Regions from separate parts of the Homo sapiens genome. Here regions 1 and 3 are each reported to be linked to region 2. The links are microRNA targets in miRTarBase. Many come from high-throughput screens and were not tested one by one. Region 2 holds a microRNA gene; each other region holds the end of a gene's coding sequence.

Evidence for each region. Region 2 holds the annotated microRNA hsa-miR-5189-5p (UCUGGGCACAGGCGGAUGGACAGG, at 4,748-4,771, shown strand). A microRNA usually pairs through its seed, bases 2 to 8, with sites in the 3' UTR of a target mRNA and lowers its output. Matches are read on the target gene's strand: a 7mer-m8 pairs with bases 2 to 8, a 7mer-A1 pairs with bases 2 to 7 and ends in A, and an 8mer does both.
Region 1: miRTarBase lists MEI1 as a target of hsa-miR-5189-5p. Seed matches in the 3' UTR shown: 7mer-A1 at 5,973-5,979.
Region 3: the mRNA of PSMF1 is a reported target of hsa-miR-5189-5p. Seed matches in the 3' UTR shown: 7mer-m8 at 1,467-1,473, 7mer-A1 at 2,001-2,007 and 8mer at 7,122-7,129.

What each region holds. Positions count from the first base shown.
Region 1 is chr22:41,798,103-41,805,294 of GRCh38, reverse strand. It overlaps MEI1 (meiotic double-stranded break formation protein 1), which reads right to left. Exons shown (of 31, transcript NM_152513.4): 31 at 5,841-6,041. The coding sequence ends at 5,996. CCDC134 (coiled-coil domain containing 134) reads right to left here and starts at 4,616. Exons shown (of 7, transcript NM_024821.5): 1 at 4,529-4,616. RefSeq lists silencers at 4,594-4,653, 5,244-5,333 and enhancers at 4,804-4,883, 4,954-5,033, 4,809-5,795.
Region 2 is chr16:88,464,196-88,471,387 of GRCh38, forward strand. MIR5189 (microRNA 5189) reads left to right here and starts at 4,723; the gene lies at 4,723-4,836. All of the region lies in intron 1 of ZFPM1 (zinc finger protein, FOG family member 1), which reads left to right.
Region 3 is chr20:1,164,102-1,171,293 of GRCh38, forward strand. It overlaps PSMF1 (proteasome inhibitor subunit 1), which reads left to right. Exons shown (of 7, transcript NM_006814.5): 6 at 217-375; 7 at 928-7,192. The coding sequence ends at 979. Among named protein-coding and RNA genes, the nearest start is that of TMEM74B, 17 kb to the right of the region's middle.

The DNA.
Region 1 (7,192 bases), not on the chromosome of region 2:
ACACCCAGCTAATTTTTGTATTTTTTAGTAGAGATGGGGTTTGGGCATGTTTCCCAGGTTGATCTTGAACTCCTGGGTTCAAGTGATCAGGCTGCCATGGCCTCCCACAGTGAAAGGATTACAGGCGTGAGCCACCATGCTGGTCTATTCATGAGTATTCTTACGGCAATGTGGTTATTTGCAAAAGTCCAGTAAGACTTTGCTCTCTCTCTTTTTTTTTTATTTTGAGACAGAGTCTCACTCTGTTGCTCAGGCTGGAGTGCAGTGGCACGATCTCAGATCTTGCAACCTCCACCTCCCAGGTTCAAGTGATTCTTGCGCCTCAGCCTCCCCAGTAACTGGGATCACAGGCGAGCACTACCATGTCTGACTAATTTTTGTATTTTTAGTAGAGACAGCGTTTCACCATGTTGGCCAGGCTGGTCTCGAACTCCTGGCCTTAAGCGATCTGCCCACTTTGGGCTCCCAATGTACTGAGATTACAGGCGTGAGCCACTGTGCCCAGCCTGTTCTCTCTTATAACAGAATACAACAAATATTGCTTATATTACCAGGGCTTTAACTAGAATATCATACTTGAGAATGTACATAGAAAGCCTGCCTTCAAAGATTCCCAGCCTTACAGTGAATGAGTAAAATCTGTCACTTCCTGGCAGGCCCAGGAACCTTAAGACTGTTAAGTAAAATCTAAAGTCTGCCTTGGTTTTGCTTCCTAGCCTTAAATGGTTTTTAAATCTGTTATTCCTATGTGATCACTGTAAAGAGAAAATTTTGTTTCTAAAAAAAGCTATAGTACATCTGTTATTAGACTGCAGCCCTGTGCATTGTTTTTGAGTTCTCATTATCTACTTGTATACTGGACTAGCTCCTGAATTCTAGATTCCTCCAATCTAACTTTCTTTCATGAAATTATTAAAAATTGGCACTGCTCTGTTCCTGAAGCCCTGTAAGTTGAAACTAGATGAACTTTAAGGTACAAGCCTTGTGCCTAATGTATGGGTCACACAGGAAGTTCACCAAACATCCCAATGCCATAACCAGAGACATTCAAACTGCAAACCAGGATAAGAAGTTGATGGTTTCATACTGTAGATAGCTTTTCCGAAGACACTGGAACAAGATTCCATATCATTTTGAGACTCTTACTCGTTTCTTTTTTTTTGAGTAGGAGTCTGGCTCTGTCGTCCAGGCTGGAGTGCAGTGGTGCAATCTCGGCTCAATGAAAGCTCCACCTTCCAGGTTCACGCCATTTTCCTGCCTCAGCCTCCCGAGTAACTAGGACTACAGGTGCCCGCCACCACGCCCGGGTAATTTTTTTTGTATTTTTTGTAGAGACGGGGTTTCACCATGTTAGCCAGGATGGTCTCCATCTCCTGCCCTCGTGATCCGCCCGTCTCAGCCTCCCAAAGTGCTGGGATTACAGGCGTGAGCCACCACGGTGGGCCTCTCAGAACTATTATGCAAACTGAGATTATCACATTGCTATTACTTCCTATTTTCCTATTTATTTATTTTACATTATTTTTGGAGACAGAGTCTCACTCTGTAGCCCGAGCTGGAGTGCAGTGGCACCATCTTGGCTCACTGTAACCTCTGCCTCCCGGGTTCAAGTGATTCTCCTGCCTCAGCCTCCCGAGTAGCTGGGATTACAGGTGTGCATCACCATGCCTGGCTAATTTTTGTATTTTTTGTAGAGACGAGGTTTCATGATCTTGGCCAGGCTGGTCTCGAACTCCTGGGTTCAAGCAATCTGGCCATCTTGGCCTCCCAAAGTGCCAGGATTACAGGGGTGAGCTATCGTGCCCAGCCCTATTTTCTTTTTAAACTTTATACCTATTACTTTTTAAATTTTTGTTGAAGTATCACTCCTGACAGAATAATGCTGGCCCAGAAGTTTGCAATGACAGCAAATGCCTATGGAACAGCCAAAATTGAACTTAACAATGAACTCCAGGTAGACATACCTTGAGAGCCACTCCTTCCAAACCTCCCTTGCTGCTCAAATGTGGCTAAAAGGTATTTGGGGTTTTTTGAGGCAGGGTCTCGCTCTGTCACCCACGCTGGAGTGCAGCGGTACAATCATAGCTCCCTATAACCTGAAACTCCTGGGCTTAAGTGATCCTCTACCCAACTGACTCCCGCACACTCCCCAACCAATGCCCAGATAACTTTTTTTTTTTGAGACGGAGTTTCGCTCTTGTTGCCCAGGCTGGAGTGCAATGGTGCGATCTCGGCTCACCGCAACCTCCACTTCCCAGGTTCAAGCGATTCTCCTGCCTCAGCCTCCCTAGTAGCTGGGATTACAGGCATGTGCCACCACGCCCGGCTAATTTTTGTATTTTATTTTATTTATTTTTTATTTTTTTATTTTTTATTTTTTTGAGACAGAGTCTTGCTCTGTCGCCCAGGCTGGAGTGCAGTGGTGCGATCTCGGTTCACTGCAAGCTCTGCCTCCTGGGTTCACGCCATTCTCCTGCCTCAGCCTCCCAAGTAGCTGGGACTACAGGCACCTGCCACCACGCCCGGCTAATTTTTTGTATTTTTAGTTGAGATGGGGTTTCACCGTGTTAGCCAGGATGGTCTCGATCTCCTCACCTCATGATCCGCCTGCCTCGGCCTCCCAAAGCGCTGGGATTACAGGTGTGAGCCACCGCGCCCGGATGTTATTTATATATATTTTTGTATTTTAGTAGAGACGGGTTTCTTCATGTTGGTCAGGCTGGTCTCGAACTCTCAACCTCAGGTGATCCGCCCGCCTTGGCGGTTGCCCAGGCTGGTCTTGAACTTCTGGACTCAAGTGATACTCCCTCCTTGACCTCCCAAAGTACTGGGATTACAGACGTGAGCCCCTGCTCCCAACCACTACAAGGGTTTTGACACTGACTCCTAGTCACCAGTCTCCAACTGGAGACTCCTAGTCTCCAACATGGCAAGAGACCAACAACCCAAGATAGGTCCGTCCCAGCACTGAGGGACCTAACTACAGGATGACTGATCAGTAAAGTTTTTGGAGAAAGATCTTGACCAAAAGGGGGAAATATGAAAGTTGTTAGAATCAAAACAGAGTCGTTTGTGTTAAAAACTCTGACAAATTTAAAGCATGATTCTCCAATGGGAAAAAACAAGAACAACAACTCTGACAAATAAAACCGAGGAAGGTTGTGAAAAGAGGGTTCTTATGCACAAATGACTGATAACAAGATCACAAAAAATGCAAAAACCACAACCCTGCACAAAGGCCACTGCAAACTTACACAGAAAAATCTTTCTGTGAGGACATCTGCCCTGCAACTGCCTGTCCAACCTCAGACTAGCACCACTCTTGCTATTCATCCTTGTAGCCAAGGATAACTATCTCAAAATAATCATGTAATCCTCATTTTTCCTTTTCAAAACCTTTGTCTTCCTTTACCTCCCCAAATACGTACACAGGTTACTATGGCACACATATTGTCACTACAATGTCTATTCCCAAGTAAACATCATTTTTTTAGAGTCTCTCACTCTGCTATTTAGGTTGACAGTACCTACCACACTCTAGGCACTGTTCTAGAGGCGGGAATACAGCAATAAATAAGCAAAAATCTCTGCACTCATGGTACTTGTCTCTAGTAGGGATAAGAGTTGATCAATAAACTTGTAAAATAAGCACAGAGGGATGAGAGGGTGTCGGTCAGGTACAAGATTACATAAAGTGGTCAGGAGAGGTCTCACACTCAGATTACAACTCCCCAATGTTACCAATGTGAAATCAAGGCACAGAAAAATGAGGTGACTGCCCAAAGTCACACAGCTATTCCCAGGCTGAACCAAGTGTCTGTTTGGCTCTAAGTCCAGTGCTCTGTCTTCTGACTCTTTGTAAATGAGCACAGGCTACCTGAGATCAGAGCTGGCTACTGAACTACCAGGACACCTGCCCCAGGGGAGAGATGCTCAGTTACAGACAGTGAGGGGCTGCAGAGATCATCCGGAGAACCCCCTACCCCCAAGCAGACGAGATAAGTGAAACCTAGAGAAGGAATAGTCCAAGTTCACCCAGGACCCTCCACATTCCACCTCCTGCTCCAAACTCAAGGGAACCAGAACCAGGCTAGGGCAAAACTTTAGGGGCCAAGGAGAATACCAGACAGCTGGCAATGACTGAAGCAGGTAGTGGGAAAGAAAAGCCAGAACAGCAGCCTGCGGGACAGGTCCTGCTTTCTCTACTGTTAAACTCACTTTTTCAGCCTCTCAATCCCGATCCTGCCGTATGCGTCACCCGGAGCTCCTCCTGGCTCAGCATGAGGCTCTGAACTCCTGCAGAGGTACCAGGTAGTGGCGGGCCTTGAGCCAGCTACCGGGGTCGGGGGCCCAGGTGGTTGACCCCGAGCCTTCGGAGCTCCCGGAGGAGGGAGCGAGCCTTCTCAAGGAACAGAGGCGTCCAGGTCCACGAAACTCCCTCCCCACCACCTGCAGCCGGTTCGAGGCCCTCGGTTCTCTCATTATCCTTCCCGGGAACCTGCAGCCCGCGGCCCCTACAGCCACCTACCTGGCCAGTCGGTGCAGGAAGGGCAGGTGGCCGAGTCCTGTGCGAGCAGCTAGGCTCGAAGGTCCAACAGGCTAACAGCAAAGCAACTGAAAGCGGGAGCAAACGGCTAGCAACCGAGCGCAGACCGCCGAGCTCCGTCCCGCCCACCGCGCTGCTCCCGGCCAATGAGCGCGAGCCGCCACTGCGGGGCTCCGCTAGCCTCACTTCCGGCCCCGCTCCACCGCCCCTGCCTGCCCCTCCAGGCTCTGGCGTGCCTCCAGCGCGCTGTGGGCACCATCCTCGTCCTGTCCCTCCTGCGGGCCCTGGGTACGTGGCCCTGGATTTAGCTTGTGTTGGAGGAAGTTAAATCTGTGGGTGGGGTCTGTGCCCAATTTAAGGCGTGAATCAGCAAACTGGGGTCCCAGCTCCTGTCGGCCGGGCGACCTTCTGCGCGCCCTCCCTGAAACTGTGTCGTCGTCTGTGGCCGAGTTTTTAAACTTTAGATCGCAACGTGAGTTTAGTGGGCGGTGACTAGCACTTTTGTTCTTCTTTAAGGACCTCAGAGACTCAGTGCAGGATTCGGGCATCCCCTCCTTGCCCCTCCGGTCCACCAACTAATAAGCCAAGTGCGGCGGGGGCTTCCTCGTCCGTTCGTTAGGCCGAGTGCAGCCCCACTTTTGCGCAGGATCAGGACAGTCAGACCCGAGAAGGCAGCGTGGCGTGGCCATCTCCGGGCCCGGGGCCCCTGCCGGGCGGGAAGGGAGCTGGAGGCCCGGTCTGGGCTGAGCTCCCCAGAACAGGCGCAGGGCAGGCACTGTCGAGCGCAGACCTCATGCCGGGGACCAAGCTGGACATGCATTCCCAGGATCTACCCACGAGGGTGCATAAACACCAGTTCTGATGACGGCTGTACGGGAAGGGACAGAGGTGACCTACTTTAGCCAGACAAGGGCTGAGGCTGGGACAGTTTCGTTCTGATAGGAAAGCTGAGAATTTGACCCTCCTTGCCTGGAAAGTTTACCTCTATCCACCTCCACGTGAGGCGAGGGAGCAGGTCAAGTGCCTCTGGGAGCTGTTGAATCGCAGCAGCCCCAACCCCTAGGCCTTTCTCTGCCCTGCCAGCCCCAGGATGGCCTGACTGGTGTTCTCTGAGTACAGCTGAGGCACCCAGCTGACTCCTTGAATGCTGTTACAAGAACAAATCCTGTCCCGTCCCTCCTTCCCTGAGGAGGCCATCAGTCTCCTTGCTGAAACAATCCCTTATCCAACTGGCTGAGAAACCAGCTCCTGGTAGACAAGGTAGTACAGTGTTTTTGGAGAGCTCGCGCAGGTATGTGAGTGTATCATTTTATTTCCTTATTCTATTTCAACAATAGAGTATATGGCTCCATATGAATAGCTTCAGCTGTCATCCATTTCCCCAACAATTATGCCCTTTGTCTCCAGGTCTCATTCTCTCTCCACTTCTGGGCCTTCAAGTCCTGAGGATCAGTTTCTGATGTGGGACAGGGATACAGCCACCCCTCCCAGGCAGCTGGCAGCAAAACATGAGAGGAAAACAGCAGAGAAGTGGGGCCAACCATGGGGGCATCACACTTCCAGAGCCCAAAACAGTCAAGAATGGTCAGGCAAGAACAGAAGTGCTCCTGAGAATAGTGGGATGGATTCTGAAATTGGGTCCTGAACACCTGGGCTAGGTAGTTGCTATTCAACAGGGAACTATTGCACGGAAGGGGCAAGGAAGAGAGCCAGGGAGGCAGCCAGAGGGGTGCAGAGGAAGCAAACTACCCTCACACACACCTCTGGACTGCAGTATCTCTGGACTGCAGTGTCTCTGGGTGCAACCAGCCACCTACCAGAGGGTCTCTGACCACTGCCACAGCCCCAAGCTTGCTTTTTTTTTTTTTTTTTGAGACATAGTCTCACTCTGCCACCCAGGCTGGAGTGTGCAGTGGCACAATCTCGGCTCTCTGGTCACTGCAATCTCCACCTCCCAGGTTCAAGTGATTGTCCTGCCTCATCCTCCCAAGTAGCTTGGATTACAGGCATGCACCACCATGCCCGGCTAATTTTTGTATTTTTAGTAGAGATGGGGTTTTACCATGTAGGCCAGGCTCGTCTCAGAACTCCTGACCTCAAGTGATCCACTCACCTTGGCTGGGATTACAGTGTGAGCCACTGCGCCCGGCCCCCAAGCTTTCTTTTTTTTTGAGACGGAGTCTTGGTCTGTTGCCCAGGCTGGAGTACAGTGGCGCGATCTTGGCTCACTGCAGCCTCTGCCTCCCAGGTTCCAGTGATTCTCCTGCCTCAGCCTCCTGGGTAGCTGGGATTACAGGCTCATGCTACCACGCCCAGCTAATTTTTGTATTTTTTAGTAGAGATGGGGTTTCACCATGTTGGCCAGGCTGGTCTCAAACTCCTGAGCTCAGGTGATCTGCCCACCTTGGCCTCCCAAAGTGCTGGGATTACAGGCGTGAGCCACTGCACCCGGCCATCCAAGCTTTCTTAAGAACATGGAAGTCACACAGACACACACACATTGTGTGTGTGTGTGTGTGTGTGCACCTGGCCATCCAAGCTTTCTTAAGAACATGGCAGTCACAGAGACACACACTATGTGTGTGTGTGTGTGTGTGTGTGTGTGTGTGTGTGTGTGTGTGTGTGTGTGTGTTGGGCTGAGGATCA
Region 2 (7,192 bases):
AATTTAAGGGTGCACTGAGCACACCTGGGCCCGAGGGGCCGAGGCATGTGAGCCGTGCCTAAGGTTGAGACCCACAGGGGCAGGGCCCCCAGGTGCCCCCAGGCTGCCTGTTTATGACTGATAGTTCCCGACTCCAGGCCTGGGCCCTGGATATGCTCCCAGAGGGGACGGGACACCCTGCAAGTCCCAAGGCAGGAGGACGGGGTGTTTGCACCTCAGTCCTGCTGCTGTCCCCAACACCACCTACCGTCTTTCCACTTCGTGGGCCTGGAACAGCTCAGGAAGGCTTGGGACTACCCCAGCCTTCTTGGGACCTTGAGGCAGTCAGCCTCAGTTTCCCCCATTGCTCATAGGCCCACACCCAGCTCCACCAAAACCAAACATTTTCCCAGAAAGCAGAGAGACCCCCTACCCCCGCCATGGCAATGGTCGGTGGGCACCCAGGCCCTCTGGGGCCCTGGCTCAAGCCGATCATTCCCATACCCTTCCAGCTCTACAGGCTGCGGCCTGGTCCGCCCTGCACTGTCTCCTGGTCCGGGCCTCTGGCGGGCACAGGTTTCAGCTCCTGCGATAACTGGGAAAGTTGAACTGGCCCCATTACTGCGCCAAGATGGTGAGTGAGATACAGCCTTGATAATGGAGGAGATACCAGCTTCTCGGTGGCCAATAGCCCAGCCTCTCCACCCATTAACATTCCCCACCAGCGATCCGCTGCCTATCTCGTCCATTTCCACTCCTCCCGAAGATAAGAATGGAAATTCTGACTTCATAGCTCACTGATTAAAGTGTCTGGATTTCTTGATAATACATAGATAAATTATGTTTTTGAAAAAGAAGGTAGGGAGGAGGGTGAGGAGGATGGGGGCCTGGGGTGGGTGGGAGCCCTTGGCCGTTTCTCCCAGCCTCTTTTGGCCCCTGGGCCAGACCATGAACCACAGAGCATCCGGCCTACACCGCAGCGGCCTCTGCACAGACCCCGTGTCCGGAGGTGCAGAGTTAGCTCACAGCAGGGCCCGGGCTGGGGAGACACAGGCAGGGCGCAGCGTCTGCTCAGAAGACAAACAGCAGAAACATGTCATAATGCTGGAAACAGGCTGGTGCTGGGAGCTAGTAACCGTGGCCCACAGGCCTGCGGGGAAGCCCTCTGTCGGGGAAGTGCCCCTCCCAGCAGCCTGGTGGTGGGCAAAGGGTGGAGGAAAAGCCAGAAGTCTGGGCCTGGCTGGCTGCGCCTGTCTTGGGCCATGTCTCTGTGCCTCAGTTTCCCCACCTGTCAAATGAGTGGGAGCACGGGGCCCTCCTCACAGCCTTGACAGCAATGCAATGCCCCAGGGTGGGCATTTCGCCTGTGTGGATCCCTGGTGTCCCCCTGGTGCCTAGAACAGTGCCCGGTTATACAGTAGGTACTTAATAAATGTGGAGGGCCCAGGCAGAGTCCCATTGGCCAGCTGGGGAGGGGGAGGGGCTTGCCTGCATTGAGAAACCCTGTGTGCTCCCCGGCTTGGCTCCCACCCTGTCCCCAGCCATCCCTGGCCCTGCTGCTGCACCTGACAGCTGCGCCCAGATGGGACTCAGGTGCCATCGCGGCGTCTGTCTGGATAAAGCCGCCTCCTTCAGCTGATCCGAGATCCGGCGCTGATGGAGCGATTAGCGGCGATTAGAGCCCGGCGTGCGGCTAATCCTCCTGCTGAGGGACAGGTGAAGCAGCCATAGGGGTGGAGGAGGGACAGGTGAAGCAGCCATGGGGTGGAGGGTGCCAAGGGGCCCGCCGTGCACGGGGGAAACCAAGGCCACGCAGCTACGATGTCTCCTTGAGGCAGTGGCCCGGCCGCTCCCTCGCTGGCAGAAAGGCTTCCTGTGGAGCCGCCTGGGCTCCCAGTGGGTGCAGGCCAGCTTGCCATTTCCCCCTTCCTGGATTTTATATTTTGAGTGACTCTTGAGAAATGAGATCCTCTGGGAACCCAAAGGCAGGATCCCTGGGGCGGTGTGGATGGTGACATTTCTGGGTGGTTCTGGGACCCCCAGTTGTAGTGATCCTGATGGCGGCCGTGGTTAGACAACAGCTCCGTTACCCAGCCCCGGCAGTTCTGGCATGGAGTACTCTGCAGCCCTGGGAGGGGCGCCTATGACCTCATTCTCCTCAGAGAACTGAAGGCTCAGCGAGGTTGAGTAACTCACCCAAGATCACACAGCATGAAGAGAACAGAAGGGACCCTGGCTTCTGGCTTAGAGTCTAGCCGAGGTCAGAGTCTCCATCCTGGCTGGAGGTTCTGGGGTGTTTGCAGTGGGGGGCAGCCCACGAGCCTCCCAGGGGGCTCACCCGTACCTTTCAGGGAGAAAGGCCAAGCACAGAAAGGGCAGGGGACGGCTGAGGGCCGCACAGCCCATCCTGGCAGTGGGAGGGGATGGGCGGAGGCTGGCCTGCCTCTATTCTTGTTTCTTGGGTTCATTTCATCTGTCCCCAGAAAATAAGCTCCTTTGGTGAGAAAGTTGGTTTCTTTCTAACTTTTGGGTTTGGTTTTGTTTCAATATTCTAAAAGGAAGTCAGCTATTTCCAGTGCAGTGGGGTGTGTATGTGGGGGAGGGGGGTAAATGTCAGCTCCAGTGACCAGCGTTTAAATCCTGCCCCCTGGCCGGCAGCCTCTCAGTTTCCTCACTTGTATCATGGGCATGATCACAGTTCCAGCCTCCTTGGCCTTTGAGGAATTAGGGCAGAAGTGGGTAAAGCATCTGGGGCCCTTGTGCGGCAGGGCTCAGTGAACCCCAAAACGGCGGTGGTATTAATGGGGGGACACGAGCCGGGGCGAGGGTCCCTGGGGTGGGGCCACCTCTCCAAAGCCCTCTCTGCCCGCAGCCCACCCTCCCTGAATCCTACTGGCATTCTTCCTGCACGGTTTTCCGCCAACGGCTACAGTGTGCCGATGACCTCAGTGATGTCACCTAGGGCCTCGTCCCATCACACAGCGGCCAGAGTGGCTCCAGAACATTTGTCCCTGTGATCCAAGAGTCTACCCCTTGTCAGTCCCCCATAGTTGCCACAGTCACCCAGACCAGGAGCCGCAGCAAACAAGCAGGGGGTACAGCATCTGTCCCCATGGCCCTGGTTCTCACACACATCCCAGAGTCTCAGGTCTCAGTTTCCTCATCTGTCAAATAGGGCCGACACCGCTAAGCCTGCCCTGCAGGCCATGGCCAACCCCCCTGAGGTCTCCCCACCCCTCCCAGCGGTGCCCACCCAGGGCTTCTCGAGGAAGGAGCTCAGCACCCGCCCCAGTGACACTTCACTTCTCTGGGCTTTGCTGCCTTTTCCTATAAAATGGGGTGCCAGTCGCCCTCTCAGAGTCCTTTCAAGGAGCTGATGGTGTAGACCGCGAGACCTGCCTTGCAGGGCACATGCGCAGCTGCTCCTGTCATGCTGGGACCTCCGGACCCCGGGCCTCGCAGCTGCCTTGGATCCCCTCCCTCCTCCAGTCACGGGCTCTGGGCTGGCTGCTGGGCGTGTTGGGCACAGCGGGCCCTAAGCTGACCCGTGCCCTTTGTGGCTGGGACCTGAGATGGGGAGGCCCCCACCCCCTAGTTCCATGGCTTTGGGAGGTGGGGGTGGGGTGTTTTCTACTCTACCACCCTACAACGAAAAAGAAGAAAAGAGAACTTGATAAAAAAGGGCGATGCGTGCTGTGCGGTGGAGGAGGTGCTATCGCCGTTATCTATCTGCTTGCTCGAGCTGAGCGGCCCCCCTTCCCCTTATCTCACCCCACCCTAATGCCAGGAACAAAAGTGAGAACACACTCTCAACCCGCACACCCGCGAGCCCCCCACCGCCCCTCACACACCCGCGAGCCCACCGCCCCTCACGCCCCCGCGAGCCCACCGCCCCGACCCACCCGCGAGCCCACCGGCCGCTGACGCACCTGCGAGCCCACCGCCCCTCACGCACCCGCGAGCCCACTGCCCCTGACCCACCCGCGAGCCCACAGGCCCTGACGCACCCGCGAGCCCACCGCCCCTCAAGCACCCGCGAGCCCACCGCCCCTCAAGCACCCGCGAGCCCACCGTCCCGACGCACCCGCGAGCCCACTGCCTGCGGCGCACAGAGCCACCAGATCTAGAGGGAGAGCTGAGCACTCGGGGTGCTCTGAAAGTCATCATCATCATCATTTTGCAAAGAAAGCCCCCAAATAGCCCTCCCTGAAACAAGGCAGCCAAAAATAAGAAGTCGCTCTCAACAGGCCCCCACAGGAGAAAAGAGGCCGGCCTTGGAGAGGGGTTGGGACTTGGGGCCAGGTCCCAGCTGTGCCGGCCTCTTGGCTGTACGACCTTGGACCAGTATCTTTCCCACTCAGAGTCATCCCTGAATGGATGTCAGGGAGCCTTCGAGGAAAGGGGAGAGCCTGCACTGTAACTGAAGCCCCCCACCAGCCCCATGCAGCTTTCTGACCCTAGACTTGGGGCTGGGACCAGTCACCCAGAATCTGATACCCCCAGGGCCCCGCCCCCCAGAGCCCCACCCCCATGGCCAGGGCACCACTGTCCTAACCAGCCTGTTGGCAGCCAATGGAAATGGGGTATGCAAATGAGCAGGGGTGAGGCCCAGGGATTGGCTGAGCTGCTGTGTGGGGGCAGGGCCTCCTCCAGGGGCTGCCCTTGACCTGGGGGAGTAGTTCCCATCCTGGACCCTGCCCCAGGACGGGAGACCTCTGCCACCACCACCACCGGCTCTGGAAGGGCCCGCCTTTTAGGGGCCTCGCTGTCTGGGCACAGGCGGATGGACAGGCTGGCCTCTGGATGACCTGCCAACCGTCAGAGCCCAGACCCACGTGGCCTCAGTTGGGGACCAGGACCCAGGAGTTCCCGAGAGGAGTGCAGCCAGCAGCCACTCCCAGATGGGAACAGCGAGTTTCACAACCCGGCAGGGACGGCCCTGGGGCCAGCCAGCCTCCCACCCCCATGTCTGGGCCCACTCCAGACCCTCCTGCAGGCTGCCCCCCACCGCTCCACCCTCTCCCCGCGCTGACTTCCATCCGGAACCTCATTCTGCCAAGCTTCTGAAGTGCCGGCCGGGCCAGGGACGTGGCACCATCTTAATGAATGACAGTCCCAACCCCTTTGCCCACCCTCAGCCTCCCCATCTGTAAAACCGGAAGGCGGTCTAGTAGGTCTGCCTCCCAGGATGGTTTCTGGGCTCTTCAGCAAGCCCCTTGCCGGCCTGGGCCTCAGTTTCCCCTTCCACACCATGAGGCTGAGGTGGCAGGTTCTCTGGGGGTCCTCCTGTCTGTGGCTGTGGCATAGCCTGGAAACCTGGGGTCTTCCAGATTTCCCATTGTCAGAAATTCATGTGCCAGGAGACCATGTCTACAGGGGGCTTAGGACACCTTAGGGGGCATGCACCTGTGTTCTGCATCCACCCACACTGCACAGTGGGTCTTGCTGGCAAGACCAGGATGAGGCAGGCTCCGCCGGCCTGAGACCTGGCTGGAGGCCCTGTCAGCTCCCACGGCACCTGAAAATCAGCCACAGGTGTGGGTGTTTGTCAAAAATGTGTAAGTGGAAAATAGTGGCGGGGCGAGGAGAGAAAGAGTCTGGGCTGAGATCTAAGGAGAGGAAGTAGGGAGGGGCCGTCCGACCAGAACCAGACATCACCTTGGCCAGGGCCCCACCCCCTAACGTGGGGTGCAGTGCCTCTCACGTGGTGAGGGTCAGAGGTGCGTGCCCAGCCCAGAGGATCTCCCCACGCAGCCCTCCCAGTCTGCAGAGGGGTCTCCACACATGCAGGCAGCTCTGTCCTCTCCCAGGACAGCTTGGGGCATACAGTAGGTGCTCCATAAATACTCCCCAGCTGATTTCTGGATCTGCTCCCTGTGCCTGGCTGTGTCCCCAGAGGCAAAGCAAGCAGAAGGAAAAAGGAAACGGAGAAAAAGCCAGGGCCTCCAGAGCCAGCATTGTCCTGGGCAAAGGCCCCTCCCGTGTAGGAGCATCGCCTGTGGAGAGCCACGGTCCTTGTCCCTGTGCTGGGGCTGTGACTCACTCCTGCGGGGTCCTTGCTGTCAGGGCCACCCCACCTGTCCTGGGGACAGGGCTGCTGGACGGGTTGGGGCGGGCAGCCTCTGGATGCCCACGGGTGTCCCCTGTACTCTCCAAACCTGTACTGAGTGCCTGCTGTGTGCTGGGCATGGTCCAGGGACCCCAGGTGACCTCATGGAACCCCAGCCTAACGAGGGAGAGTGAACACAGGGGTCTGACGTGCTCTGTGGCAGAACCACTGGGGAGGCTGTTGTTGGGGGACTGGTGGTGTGGAGGGCCGGGTGGTGACACTCAGTGACAGGTGAGGATGTGGCACGGTGTGGAGGGCCGGGTGGTGACGCTGAGTGACAGGTGAGGATGTGGCACGGTGTGGAGGGCCGGGTGGTGACGCTGAGTGACAGGTGAGGATGTGGCACGGTGTGGAGGGCCGGGTGGTGACGCTGAGTGACAGGTGAGGATGTGGCACGGTGTGGAGGGCCGGGTGGTGACGCTGAGTGACAGGTGAGGATGTGGCACGGTGTGGAGGGCCGGGTGGTGACGCTGAGTGACACGTGAGGATGTGGCACGGTGTGGAGGGCCGGGTGGTGACGCTGAGTGACAGGTGAGGATGTGGCACGGTGTGGAGGGCCGGGTGGTGACGCTGAGTGACAGGTGAGGATGTGGCATAGGGAAACACATCCTCGCCGAGCGCACAGTGGGAGCTCCGAGCAGGGGATGAGGTCGTCCAGGAAGGGGCGGGAGACGCAGCGTGACGCACTGACCCAGGGCCCAGCTCAGATGCCAGTACCTCACCCGGTGGGGTCCAGCCTCCGCGACAGGCATTCCCTTCCCCGTGTGCCCTTGCCAACTACATACTGGGCTGCCCAGAGGCTGCCTTCTGAAGGAGCGAGGGGGCCGGGAGGAGGAAAGCCCAGCTCCCCTGCAGCCATGATAGATAGACCAGACTTTTCCTCTCCACTTACTCCGCCCTGACCGCGATGGGCACTGAGAATTCAGACAAGAGCCGGACTCCCTGAGCTCCCAACCAGCTGACCCTCCAGGGCTGCAGCCATGTGTGACCTCCACCCTCGCGAAGGCCAGCGGCCGCAGGGTCTGGCTTGGGCTATAGCATCTAGGCTCTGAGATGACTGTGTCCGTGGCGGCTCCCGCTCACAGTTCAGGACCCCGAGATGAC
Region 3 (7,192 bases), not on the chromosome of region 2:
CCAGAAGTACTCAGCTGTGAGGTATGCTCTTCGTATAGGCTTTGTGTTCTTGCCCTTGCCCACTTTCCGCTGGCTCTCAGGCAGCCATCCACATGTCTGCTTGGGCCATCCAGAGTAGACATCCCAGCCATTCTTGGTGCATTGTAACCTCCCTCGCCTTTTCTCCAAGGGCAGTCCTTGCCACACCTGCTTACCTAACTTTTCTTCTTGCCTCAGGCCTCGGAGAGGTGGCATGATTGTGGATCCCCTGAGATCTGGCTTCCCAAGAGCACTTATTGACCCTTCCTCAGGCCTCCCGAACCGACTTCCTCCAGGCGCTGTGCCCCCAGGAGCTCGCTTTGACCCCTTTGGACCCATTGGGACCAGCCCACCCGGGTACGTAGTCACTCAGGTATGCTGAGAAGTAGGACCTGATGGCAGCTTGGTTCAGTGTGGCAGCAATGAAGGTTTCTAGCCCCAGGCACAGAGCTGCCGCTGCCTTCACCTGTTGCTGCCAGGAGAGTGGAGCCTCCTCCAGGGCCCTGCCTGATTTCTCCCTGGAGCCTTCTAGGAGCTTCCTATCCCTCAGTGCCTCTCTTTCCCCAGCTCCACTCTGGGGAGGACTCAAAGTAGGAGGAACTAACAATTCTTGAAAGTTAAGTATGTGGCAGAAACTCAGTGGATCCTTTCTTCAGCAGTCTTGGGTAGATGGTGGCGTCTACATTTTATAGATGCAGAAAATGAGGCCCTGAAAGATTAGGTAACTTATACCAAGCGGGGGAGTCAGGATTCAAACCCCGGTTGTCTGGCTCTTGAGTGCATGTGTTTAAATTCCTCACACCGCCACATCATGTTGAAGGGCAGGCTCCCTCAGTGCAGGGTCATGTCTGCCCATGTTCCCCTGGTCTCTCCATCACTCCAACTCATCAGCCCCTCTTTCCATTCCAGACCTAACCCAGACCATCTCCCCCCGCCGGGCTACGATGACATGTACCTGTGAAGGCCTCAAGAATGTAACATCCCAGGCTTCCCTCCATTCTCCTGGAGCTGCCACCGCTGTCCCCATCAGCAACCATGTTCTTGCAGGCTGGGGGCAAGGGATTCTGCTCATGTGTTTGCAGACCGGCTGGGATAGCCTCCCCACCCCTTATCAGAGCCAAGACACCTGCTGCAGCTCTCCACCTAGCTGCAGATAGCTCCCAAAGAGAAATCAGTGTGTCTCTTTCACCATCAGCTCCTCCCCTTTCACCACCAGCTCCTCTCCACTTCCCAAGGGAGACTCCGGCAACCTTCAGCAACATATATCCTCGACCAGATGCAGTGCTATAAGAACAGAACGCATTTTGGATGTTATTATTAAGAACCAAATGTCAATACAGAATTCATGTTGCCGGTTTCCCACTTTTCTTTTTACATTAATGCATAGCTGCTTCCATTTATGAGACTTTAGAGTTTGAGTTTCTGTAGGGCTGAATGACTCTTTTTCCTGCCCAGGGCCCATTCTTGCTTCTCAGGCACCTTCCGTTTATTAATTGCCATTGCTCCTGACATCACTAAGATGGGTCCCCTTCTGGCTGCATGAATGGAAATGAGTGACTGGAAATCCCATAGGCCACAAGAATGACTTTCACAAGGGCAGGAACATTGTGGAAAGACTGCATCATTCTGATGAGGCAAAATCCTCCAGCTATTCCTGTCTGGGCCAGTTTTGTAGGTCCATCTGTGCATGGGCAGCAGTAGTCAAAAAGCCAAGGAAAAAACAGAGCAGACCTGAAGGCTAATCTTATTTTTGCCACTAACTTAGTGAATGACCCTAAGCAAGTTCCTTCTCCTCTTAGGGCCTTGTGCCAAGCCTATGAAATTGGAGGTGGCTTTCCTGCTCTAAAGCATTTTGATGTCTCATTCTGTGTTTGGTAACCCCTATAAACTGGGGCAGAGGAAAAGAATGATGGTTCAAGGCCATACTTCCCTTGAACCTTGTGTGGTTCTTGCCTAACTCTGTGGTTTTTGGACCCCATGGGGCCCAGACAGAGCACAGGAGCATGGGCTGCCTCTGAGTGTGGTGTTGAACTTCGGGAGGAGCAGGGAGCCCTGCACCTTGTGTCCTGGCCCACCTGACCTTTGGTGTTCTCCGGATCCTTTTCAGCCCGAGGCCTGACAGACGCGGGCAGTGATGAGCCCTGTTCTGGAGTGGAAAGAGCACGATAGAGCACCAGGCTAAGAGGCACGAGATCAAGGCGGTAGTCACTTCCGCTCTGCAGCTAGCATTTCAACCATATGTGGATCCTTTCATTTCTCAGCTCCCTGGATTCCTTCCCCTAAATTAGGACCTATTATTTACCTGTAGGTAAGCAAGCTACTGTAGCTCTTCTGAGGTATCTGCCAGGCTGTTTTCTGTAGCCTCAGATTGCCTATCTGCTTAGCCTGAGAACAGGTAGATGAAAACTAAACTGATGCCTAGGCCCAGGGTCAGTCTCAGATGGAAGCTGGGCCTGGGTGGGGAGGCTAGCATGCGTGGCTCCCTGGGTATTTCTGTCAGTCCCCATGGCAAGCAGTGATTTAGTAAAACACCCCAGAGTCAGGGAAGCCAACCACCTTGAAACCTTTAGAACATCTCTGCTTTGGAGAAAGACCCAGAGATCAGGCAGAGGTGCAGATTCAATCATTACTCATAACCTTTGAGAGATGGCAAATGGGAGGAGTGTTAGTCTTTGTTTTGGAATTGGACCATTCTTGCAACCAAAAGGACTTAGAGCAGTTTGCTCATAAAGACATCCTTTATTATAAAAGGAAGTATTTAAAGGATGATAGAGACCATCAGATAGAAGCAGGGAAGGTAGATAACTTTTAGGACCTTGATGTGAGGAAAAGATAAAATTTAAACAATAAATTTGCCACTTAGATTTTCTAGCAGCAAAGTCCGAAAAGATAGTTATATACAAAATTCTGTTTTCTGAAAACAAAATTGTGATTCACCTTCAGAATTGGCCATTTTTTTTGTGAGTTTCCTTGCATCAAGGACACTGAGAAACACAGTCATTGTCTTAGGTGTTCTATGGGAGGAAGTGAATAGAGCCTTTAGGAACTTCCTGGTCAAGCTTATGGTGCTTATTTTGATCTGGGCCACTTCCCTCCTTCCAGTCATGAGTAATCATCAAGGAGCAAGTTGGAGTGTTTCAGGTGTATATTTTGTAGAACCCAAAAGATTGGAGCCTTAACAATAAACATCAGCACTAAGTGACCTGTTCCTCCTTTTTTAAATAGCAGCTTTATTGAGATATAATTTACATACCCATAATTTACATACCTGTTTAAAGTATACAATTCAGTGGATTTAGTATGTTCACAGTGTTGCACATCCACCACCATTTCTAATTCCTGAACATTTTCACCACCTCAAAAAGAAACCACACACCCATTGGCATGACTCCCCATTCCCTTGCTCCCAGCCCCAGGCAACCACTAACATCTGTCTCTAAAGATTTTTTTTTTTTTTCTGGACAGTTCTCATAAGTGGAATCACTCAGTATTATGGCCTTTTGTGTCTGGCTTCTTTCATTTCATGTGATGTTTTCAAGATTCATTCATGCTGTAGCATGTATCCATGGTATGGATATATCACATTTTGCTTATCCTTTTATCAGTTGATGGACAGTTGGGTTGTTTCTACAAAAAGGCTATTATGAGTAATGCAGCCAAGAACATTTGTGTACCAGTTTTTGAGTTTTCAGTTGTTTGAGTTTCAGATGTTTTCAGTTCATTTGGGTATATACCAAGGAGTGGAATTGCTGGTTCACATGGTAGCTCTATATTCTACTTTGTGAGGAATTGTCAGACTGTTTTCCACGGAAGCTGCACCATTTTACATTTCCACTGGTAATTTATGAGGGTTCCAGTTTCCCCACATCTTCACCAACTCTTGTTATTTTTCATGCTTATGGCCATCCTAGTTAGCGTGAAGTAGCATCTCATTGTGGTCTTCTCTTCCATTTTTTAAAAAAGAATTTTGACCTACACCAAGCAAGGCAGAGACCAGAGTCAGTCCCCCTTGGGGAGCAATCTGTGGTTTTGATAATCACCACCTTGGGATGAACATGGCTGGTGAGCTGCAGAGCAGTTGATTTGACTTTTGGGGATGGTTCTAGGCTGGATGTGATACAGGGCAGGTTTTGTCTCTAGAGAAAGTTCTCATGACCTTCAGGTCTAATGAGATTCAGATCATCACTTTGGTTTGGTTTGAAATTTCTTTGTTTATCCAGTGAATTACAAGTAGAATAAAGATCTGGTTCTAAATTGTCTTTTGGTGGTGAAGTGCCATAGACCATTTCGGACCATTTCTATGATGTACCAGCAGCCCCCACATCACACCTCCTCTTCCTTGGCTTGTCTCTTCCCCAATTCTTAGAGTTAGCAGTGTTTCTTACTGCATTCATCTCCTCAGTCATAAGTGTCTGTCAACCTCCGTTGTGAAGTCATGAGTCTCTTGAGACTGAAACTCCAAGAATGTATTGTGCTCACAGTGGCGATGGTGTTCCTGTGCTGGATGGTCAGTGGTTGTTGACATGTAGTTAGAAAATAGGTAGCAAGTTCCACGCAGCCTCACTCTTTGGAACCTAGTTTCTCCTATGGCCTCCCTTTCTACTGTTGTTAATAACATTCTATTAATGATCCATGCCTCTCTTCACAGGAGGAATATTAGAATCTATGGAGCAGTTAGTATTCTTTGTCACCTAAATTTGTCTACTTCTGTACATTTCCAATAAGGCACCACCAGGGCAAGGGAAGATTCCCCACATGTATATCCCCAGCTGTTTCTGTCATAAAACTTGCATGTGTATAAACCACTATTGACTTTTTGCACCAAAGGAGATATTCAAGGACAGACATCCAAGTCCCCAGCCCTTTATTGCCCTTGGGATACCACAAGGCACAGATACAGGCAGCTGCTGTGTGGCTCTGGAGTTCCTAATCCCCAGATTGTAGCAATGATGATGTGATCCTGCTGCTCTCTGGACCGTAACCTTTTTGGTTACAAAAGGTAAATTTCTGTTTACTGCATCTGAACCCCAGGACTAATGCGTCACTGCATTAACCCCAGGACACATGGACCAAGTCACTGCGGCCGTACTTGGCCCTGAATCTGTCCTGGAGGGTGGGTCAAAAGGCAAGGGTGGCAGGTAGGATGGTAGGCAGTGAGGGGTGGCAAGGCCTAGCTGACTGAGGACAGACCCAGCAACAATGACAGGAGGTTTGAACACCTCACGAGTGGTAGTGCCCATGGGAGGTGCGAAGTGGAAGGCCCAGCCCTTGCTTGGAGGAACGTGAGGCTGATGGTGCAGTGCAATAGAGGTCACTGGATGCCCATTTGAACAGCTGCGTTCCAGATGAGCCACCTAAGGTGGATGTTGTGAGAGTCACAGTGGGTTTAGAGGGACAAGGTAGTGAGAGGATGCTGCTGACGCATTAGTCCTGGGATTCAGCTGCAGTAAACAGAAATTTACCTTTTGTAACCAAAAAGGTAATGGTCCAGAGAGCAGCAGGATCACATCATCATTGCTACAATCTGGGGATTAGGAACTCCAGAGCCACACAGCAGCTGCCTATATCTGCACCAAAAAGTAGATGTCCTTCACACTGCCATCTGGACACCACTCAGCTAGCTCATCCAAGTTCAAGGCTCAATTGAATGCGTCTGGTTGTTGGAACCTACATGGCCTCTCAAATGGTACTGGCATGGAATATTGGGGAGATGTCTTTATTCCCTCTTCCCACCTTTCCTGGAAGGTGCACTGGGACAGAGGTCTAGTGAGCCAATCTTCTGTGTTGTCTACGCCATGGACCATGATATAAATGGGTACCACAGCCTTGCATGCCTGAGCCTAACCATCTCCTGAGATGCTTGCTCTAAGTACACATTAGTACATGCTGGGCCCCAATCTAGATCTCAAGGGAACGGCCTTCAGATCCATTTTTGACAAGTTCCTTTTGTGAGTCCTATGATCATGCAAGTTTGAGAACTGAGAAGGGAGGGGAAGACCTACCTCCTTGTTACTCAGACCACCAGCAACAGCAGCATCACCTGGGAACCTGTTACACATGCAGAATCTCAAGCCCCACCCCAGACATTGAATGAGAATCTGCATTTTAACAAGTTCTCCATGAGATTTGTGTAAACTTAAAGTGAGAGAAGCTCACATGGACTATGTCTTTTTCCTTTACGTGAATATCGAGTACAAAGAATTGAGCCAGTCAGTCCTCTTGGTTAATGGCACATTATGATTAATGCATGCATGAACTCTGATTCGAAGTTTTCGTTGATTTTACCCCCAGTATCCACTCCATTCCTTTGCCCCCATGGGTCACTTAGATGTGTTTCATGTTATCTTTAAAAATGCAGCACCTTTATAGCATACATTATATCTTCAAACCATAACCATAATGAGGTGTTATCCCCATTTCCTGTACCAGAAAAGGAAGGATTGGGAAGGTCCAGTAATTTGCTCAGGGTCAAGCAGGAGTCTCAGACTCAGTCAAGCGTGGTTACTCACAGCCCTCCCTTTCTCAGTGTGTGGCCTTCCTCATCCACAAAATGAGCATCACCCCTACCTGCAGGATTCTTGCAAGATCCAACCAAATAATGTGTCTTATTAACAGAGAGTTGGGGCTCGGTGGGTGCTTGCTGCAATTGTTACTAAAGTCATATGGGTAGATAAGGGTGGGACTCAAGGACAAGAGAGGAACCTTGGAATATCCCCCAGTGCAGGAAACAAGCATTTATCAGGTGCACACAGCGTGCTAGGCTTCTCCTCATCGCATGTAGTACCCCTGACAACCCCAAGGTAAACACAGCTAGTGGCATTAGTTGAGATGCTGCACCTACCCCCTGGGGTGGCAGAACCGTGATTGGAACCCAGGTCAGTGCTCTTTTCAGTAGAACTGCTGTACCCAGACCTCACATCCTCTCTAGGTGAGGTGCATGGGTCCCTGGGCAAAACCCATTCCAGAAGCTGGGAAACCACGTCAGGACTTGTGTGAGAAAGGAGTGATGCTTCATAATCCCCAGGATGGTCTTAAGGCTCCTCAGTCAGTCCTATTTGCACAGCGTGCCTCATGCTCCTGAGTACCTCCACCTGCAGCCACAGTGCCCAGAGCACCTGGTTAGGAGGAGCATCTGAAACCACCTGCACAACCTCCATTCCACAGAGGAAGAAAC